Linked DNA regions of Homo sapiens. The protein of the gene in region 1 purifies or fractionates together with the protein of each later gene. This does not show direct contact. Each region holds a gene or a part of one and is shown in the gene's direction. Other genes may lie near its edges.

What was found.
Region 2: the proteins of CAPNS2 (region 1) and CAST purify together in Homo sapiens (affinity purification with mass spectrometry; 4 studies listed by BioGRID and IntAct, with this or other methods). This does not show direct contact.

What each region holds. Positions count from the first base shown.
Region 1 is NC_000016.10:55,564,961-55,568,187, forward strand, and holds CAPNS2 (calpain small subunit 2), read left to right. Parts: upstream 1-1,723; 5' UTR 1,724-1,796; coding exon 1,797-2,543; 3' UTR 2,544-2,727; downstream 2,728-3,227. UniProt on the Homo sapiens protein: Calcium-regulated non-lysosomal thiol-protease which catalyzes limited proteolysis of substrates involved in cytoskeletal remodeling and signal transduction.
Region 2 is NC_000005.10:96,735,205-96,739,035, forward strand, and holds part of CAST (calpastatin), read left to right. Parts: intron 1-967; coding exon 968-1,036; intron 1,037-2,644; coding exon 2,645-2,743; intron 2,744-3,831.

The sequences.
Region 1 (3,227 bases):
CTAGAATATTTAAAGAACTCCTGCAACTCAACAACAAGAAACCCAACAAATAACCAGATTTTAAAATGGCCAAAAGATTTAAATAGACATTTTTCCAAAGATCTTCTTTGGTCAGTAAGTATTAATACATTAAAAGATGCTCAACATCATTAATCATTAGGGTAATGCAAATCAAAACTACAATGTTATACCACTTTACAGCCATTAGGATGGCTATTATTAGAAAACAAAACAAAAGAGAAAATAACAAGTGTTTGCAAGCATATGGAGTAATTGGAACTCTTGTGTATTGCTGGTGGGGATGTAAGTGGTACAGTCAATAAGGAAAAGCGTATGGTAGTTCCTTAAAAAGATAAAAATAGAATTATCATATGATTCAGCAATTCCACTTCTTGGTATATACCCAAAAGAATTGAAAGCAAAGACTCAAACAAATATTTGTATACCCATGTTCATAGCAGCATTATTCCCAATAGCCAAAAGGGCAACCCAAGTATTCACCAATGGGATAATGGAAAAACAAAATGAGTATATTAATGCAATACAATATTATTCATCATTAGAAAGGAAGGGAATTCTGACACATGATACAACATGGATGAATCTTGAAGAAATTATGCTCATTGAAATAAGCAAGTCACAAAAGAACAAATACTGTATGATTCCACTTATATAAGGCATGCAGAGTAGTCAAATCATAGAGCTAGAAAATAGAGAGATGGTTACCAGGGGTGGGGGAAGGGGAGAATGGGAGTTATTCTTTAATGGGTACAGTTTCAGTTTTGCCAGATGAAAAAAGTTCTGAAGATAGCTGGTGGTGATGGTTTCACAATGCAAATATACTTAATGCCACTGAACTCTATACTTAAAAATGGTTAAAATAGTATATTTTATGGCATGTGTATTTTATCACAATTTTAAAACATTTAACATTTTTATAATGAAAAAGGAATAAATGAAAGAGTCTGTACTGTCTGATTTAATTTATTTAAGGTGCAAAAATAAATCTATGGTGTTAGATGTCAGGACAGTGGTTATCCTTGGAAGACGGAAGTAACTAGAAAGAAGTATGAAGAGGCCTCTGAGATGTGTGCAGTCTGTGAAATTCTTTGAGCTATCCATTTGTGATTTATATGATACATTTTTTACATGAATGTTACATTTCAAAAAAGATTTTAGCAATGTCGATCACAGACACCACAGCAGCCCTATGGAATCAGAATCTCTGGGAGTGGAAATTCAGGACCTTGCATTTTAAAAATCTCCCTTCTAAATTTTTCTTAAGACTACTGGATTTTGAGAATCTTTGCTAAAGGAAGAGGATTAAATATTCTTCCAATGCCCAAGATTTCTTCAATTCTATTCTAACAATAAATATTTCTTAGAGAATAAATTTTTGATTTCCTTGCATCATTTACCTTTTTCCTGTTAGGAAAATGCACATCATTTTTTAGGTGCTGAGACAGAGGACTAAGAAATCAATGACATAAAAATGCATACTTTAATATTTTTTCTTTAAAACTATTATCCTAAGGTGTCCTACATACTATAATTTATAAGTATCTGGAAGAGTGAAAACAATTTTATTGAGGCCTTGTAAAATATGGCAGGTGCTAGGACCTCATGGAACTCAGGTATCTTCAGTAGGATGTGAAACATCACATCATGGGGCGTGGTGCAGTGTAAGCAGGTAAAGAAAAGCCAGTTCTTCCACATGTAAACTACTTGAACTCCATTTCATCTTTTTTCATACCATCTCTAAGATTGCTGCCGCATTTGCTTGTTAAACTGAAAGCATGTTTCTTGCAAAGGCTCTATTGGAAGGAGCAGATCGAGGTCTTGGAGAAGCTCTTGGAGGCCTCTTTGGAGGAGGTGGTCAGAGAAGAGAAGGAGGAGGAAGAAATATTGGAGGGATAGTTGGAGGAATTGTGAATTTTATCAGTGAGGCTGCAGCAGCTCAGTATACTCCAGAACCGCCTCCCACTCAGCAGCATTTCACCAGTGTGGAGGCCTCAGAAAGTGAGGAAGTTAGGCGATTTCGGCAACAATTTACACAGCTGGCTGGACCAGACATGGAGGTGGGTGCCACTGATCTGATGAATATTCTCAACAAAGTCCTTTCTAAGCACAAAGATCTTAAGACTGACGGTTTTAGTCTTGACACCTGCCGGAGCATTGTGTCTGTCATGGACAGTGACACGACTGGTAAGCTGGGCTTTGAAGAATTTAAGTATCTGTGGAACAACATCAAGAAATGGCAGTGTGTTTATAAGCAGTATGACAGGGACCATTCTGGGTCTCTGGGAAGTTCTCAGCTGCGGGGAGCTCTGCAGGCCGCAGGCTTCCAGCTAAATGAACAACTTTACCAAATGATTGTCCGCCGGTATGCTAATGAAGATGGAGATATGGATTTTAACAATTTCATCAGCTGCTTGGTCCGCCTGGATGCCATGTTTCGTGCCTTCAAGTCTCTGGATAGAGATAGAGATGGCCTGATTCAAGTGTCTATCAAAGAATGGCTGCAGTTGACCATGTATTCCTGAAGTGGGAACTGAGAAGTCAAGATCCTCCCTGGAGGACAGGACTGAAAACCTTGCCAAGCTGTACACAGTTGCTGATACCCTGTGCAACAGCTCTCATTTCCTGGCAAGCTCTTTCACAACCCTACATATTTCTGATCATGTGCTGCCTTTTACTGCTGAATTAAAACAGATATTTCACGAAAAATGTTCTGAGTGGTTTGTATATCAGCTTTTTGAGATTTGGATTTATATGGACTTGCATATATATGGTGGGGAGGTTGTGGGGTAGAGTTCTAATGGAGTAGATTTTAAAAGGTGTTGCTTATTTAGTGAATAAATTCCAAGGAGTAGGAACTTTATTATTGTTGTTATTGTTGTTAAGAATGAATTTTTTTAATCCTAGAATAAATCAAGAAAGCCCTCAGGAGATACATTTTCCATTTTAAAAAGTTGAGGAGAGAGGTTCAAAATCTGTTTTTCTTGTAATTTTATACCTGGTTTTCCCATTATGTAAAAAAATGAAAAGTGCTTTTTAGGAAACTTATTTAACCATAAAGAAACAGGTTCAGACAATGAAATTAAGCAGTTTTATATAAGGGTAGCATTTTTTTAAATGATGGAGCTACTATCTAAAATTCTAAAGTTCTTTAATTCTGTTTCTTTAGTAAAAAAAAGCACTAGCAATTTTGTTTTGATACATTTGTA
Region 2 (3,831 bases), on another chromosome or scaffold:
CATACTTCGTATAGATTCACTTATCTAATATCTCCAAGGAGAAGTGACTTGCTAAAGCCTCAAGCAGCCATGCATGTCTCAACTGTTATGCAAACCTTGGCAGTCAGAGCCTGTGCTCTTCCTGTGCTTTGTTCCCTGAGTTTGGATACCTTCAAATGGGAAATGGTCCCCTTTTATCTTAAACCCAACAACTTCACCCATTTAGTTTCTGCCAGTCTCTGAAAGCATTTGCCTCTGGCCATAGAGAATGATTTTGGATAAGACCACCAGCACAGGGCAGAAATGTGCAGAGTGTATACAGTGGGGACCAAAGTAAAAGAGATGCCAGAGGTAATGGAGAACAAAGGGCATAGATGCCACAATAGGATCAGAATGGTGCCGAAAGGTGGCAATGGGGAGGGAGAGATGCTCCAAGGGTCAAATTTCAGAGATTACATCTGGATAAAAGCATGGAAACTGCAGATTGAAAAGTTGTTTGCAGTCTTTGATAGAGCAATGGAAGCAATGATGAGCGATCAACTCATTTTAAGGAAAGAGGAGGTGTTGAGATGCCGAAGTGAGGGATATGGAAGTCTTGATGTGTGGGGGCAAAGAGCCAGAGAGCAAAGCCAGAAGTGGCAGCCTATAGAAAGAATTCATGGATGTTGTAAAAACTGGCTGTGGGCCCTGGAGAAGAACAGCGAGGAAAGAAACAGTCTTGGATTCAAATCTTCATTCTGTCCCTTACTGTGTAACCTGAGGAAAGTGGCCTAATCTGAGCCTTGCTTTGCCCATCACTAAATGAGACTAATATAATTAAAGCCCTTCTGAAAAAGGATATAAAACACACAGCACAGTTTCTGCTGTAGAGCGGATGTTCAGTGTATGATCAATGCTTGTTAATATAATGAATTTATTTTAAAATTTGTAATAGTATTGAGTTTTATTAAGGTATGTGAGGAGTTGTTAATTTCTCAATTCTCACCAGAAAAAAGAAAAGAAATCATTAACCCCAGCTGTGCCAGTTGAATCTAAACCGGATAAACCATCGGGAAAGGTATGAAGACAACAGTGTCCTTCTACATGAGACAGTTACTCATATGCTCTGTATTTATCATAATCTGATTTCTTGTGGGCAAATAATATGAGGGGGGTAATTTAAAGGACCATTTTAATGAATTATTGTTTCAAGCTAATATTGAAAGTGTGGGTTGGAAGTATGGTTTTCACACTCATGTTTGTAACACTTGCTATTATAACCCCTTTTTTAAAAAAAAACAAACAAACTCCAGTTTCATCCCATGGAGTTTACATTCCAGTTTCTCTCCTGCAAATACACTTTATTTAACCAGAGGTATTACTAAAGAAGTAAGGTACTTCTTTTTTTCTGAAATTCCTAAAAGAATCAGTGTAAGCCTAACAGCCTTCAGATTGTATTTCACATATCCATGATCAGGAGAGTCCTAAAATTGTCATGGGAATATGGTAGTTGCAAAAAAAAAAGACAATTTAAATAATTATTTTTCATCTAAATCAAATAATACAAGGTCCTTTCCTAGATTGTTGTTTTCTCCTTTCAATGCAGGTTATTGTTCATAACGAGTCATCAACATAAAAAATAGATAGAAGCACTCTTATTTATTATTATATTAGTCCATGTTTACACTGTTATAAAGAACTTCCCTGAGACTGGGTAATTTATAAAGAAAAGAGGTTTAATTGACTCACATTTCTGTGTGGCTGGGGAGGCCTCAGGAAACTTACAATCATGCTGGAAAGGGAATCAGACACTTTCTTCACAAGGCAGCAGGAGAGAGAGCATGTGAAGGAGGAACAGTCAAACACTTATAAAACCATCCAATCTCATGAGAACTCACTCACTATCATGAGAACAGCATGAAAATCGCCCCAATGATCCAGTCACCTCCCTTCCTCGACACGTGGGGATTATAGGTCCCTCCCTTGACACATGGGGATTACAATTGGAGTTGAGACTTGGGTGGAGACATGAGCCAAACCATATCAGTTATACTGATTTAAGCCCATATTGGCAGAGTAAACTTGTGAGTTCTTGTAAGTTTAATGTCTCAGGTAATTTCTGTTTTGTAAACCTCTTCAGGCAAGCAAGTGAACAACAACAAAAAAAAACATGAATGAAATAATACAGAGTGATTTCCCTCATGAAATAGATTCTATTTGGAATAGGTACTATATAGAGATTTTTAGGGGTTCTTTGTTTAAAACTCTGGAAAAGTATTGATAAGCAATAAATACCAAGCATTTCCCTTATCGCTTAGAGCAACATGGTTATAATTCCCTGTATTTTGTTTTGTTTTGTTTTGTTTTTCCTTTTTTAACTGTCAGTGCATCGGACTGGCAGCTTTAATGAACTTGTACATTTGTTCATGTATGTAATGCCTGTAGACTTGTTGAAACTGTGCTTCTTGCCTGAATGTGGCTTTTCATCTTTCCAACCTAGAATTTGTACTTTGAGACTTAAATAGTAAAGTCTGTTAAAGACCAGATTTTAACTATTTTGGGGAACTATTTGAAGAACTTTTGGTGTTTGGTGGTTTTTCTACACAGAATGGCTTTTTTTGTAGTTAAACTAAAGGTGAAATATGTATAACAAATAACATTTAAATATCTGTTCTTTCTTTTCCAGTCAGGCATGGATGCTGCTTTGGATGACTTAATAGATACTTTAGGAGGACCTGAAGAAACTGAAGAAGAAAATACAACGTATACTGGACCAGAAGTTTCAGTATGTGATCATGATATCTGTAAAAATTCATACTCAGTGGGTAGGAGAGCAAATAAGGCCATGGTCATGAAGTACAAAAGAATACCTAGTGAGGCCAGGCGCAGTGGCTCACATCTGTAATCCCAGCACTTTGGGAGGCCGAGGCAGGCAGATTTCTTGAAGTCAGGCATTCAAGACCAGCCTGGCCAACATGGTGAAACCCTGTCCTTACTAAAAATACAAAAATTAGCTGGGCATGGTGGTACACGCCTGTAATCCCAGCTACTTGGGAAGCTGAGGCAGGAGAATCACTTGAACCCAGGAGGCAGAGGTTGCAGCGAGCTGAGATCGCACCACTGCACTCCAGTTTGGGCGACAGAGCGAGACTCCATCTCAAAAAAAAGAGTATCTAGTGTTCTGTCATTTGCATAGAAACAGGATGATGTCAGTATCAACATCAACACAGCAACTAAAAATTAGTATCGGGGATGGAAATTGTCTTTTGGCAGCTGCATTATAACATTGAGTTAGCAAACATTTGTTGTTGTGCTAAGATTGACACTGGGACACGGTCCACTGGGTCACACACTTATTTTCCATCCTCAAGATTTAAGTATAATGGACTAGAACTTGTTTTGATTTCTCGATATTTACCACCCTCAGTTTATCCCTATTCCTAATTCCTAAAATTATATTTTCCTTGGTATTAAAAAAAAGACATGCCAGCCAGGCATGGTGGCTCACACCTGTAATCCCAGCACTTTGGGAGGCCGAGGCAGGCGGATCATCTGAGGTCAGGAGTTCAAGACCAGCCTAGCCAACATGGTGAAACCCTGTCTCTACTAAAAATACAAAAAAATTAGTCAGGAATGTTGGCGCATGGCTGTAATCCCAGCTACTCAGGAGGCTGAGGCAGGAGAACTGCTTGAACCCGGGAGGCAGTGGTTGCAGTTAGCTGGGATCATGCCATTGCACTCCAGCCTGGGCAACATGGATGAGACTCCATCTCAAAAAAAAAAAAAAAAAGACACGCCATAGGCTAGACAAAAATATTTGCAACAGACATAACAAAGGGTTTGTTTCTAGAATTTATAAAGAATAAAAAACAG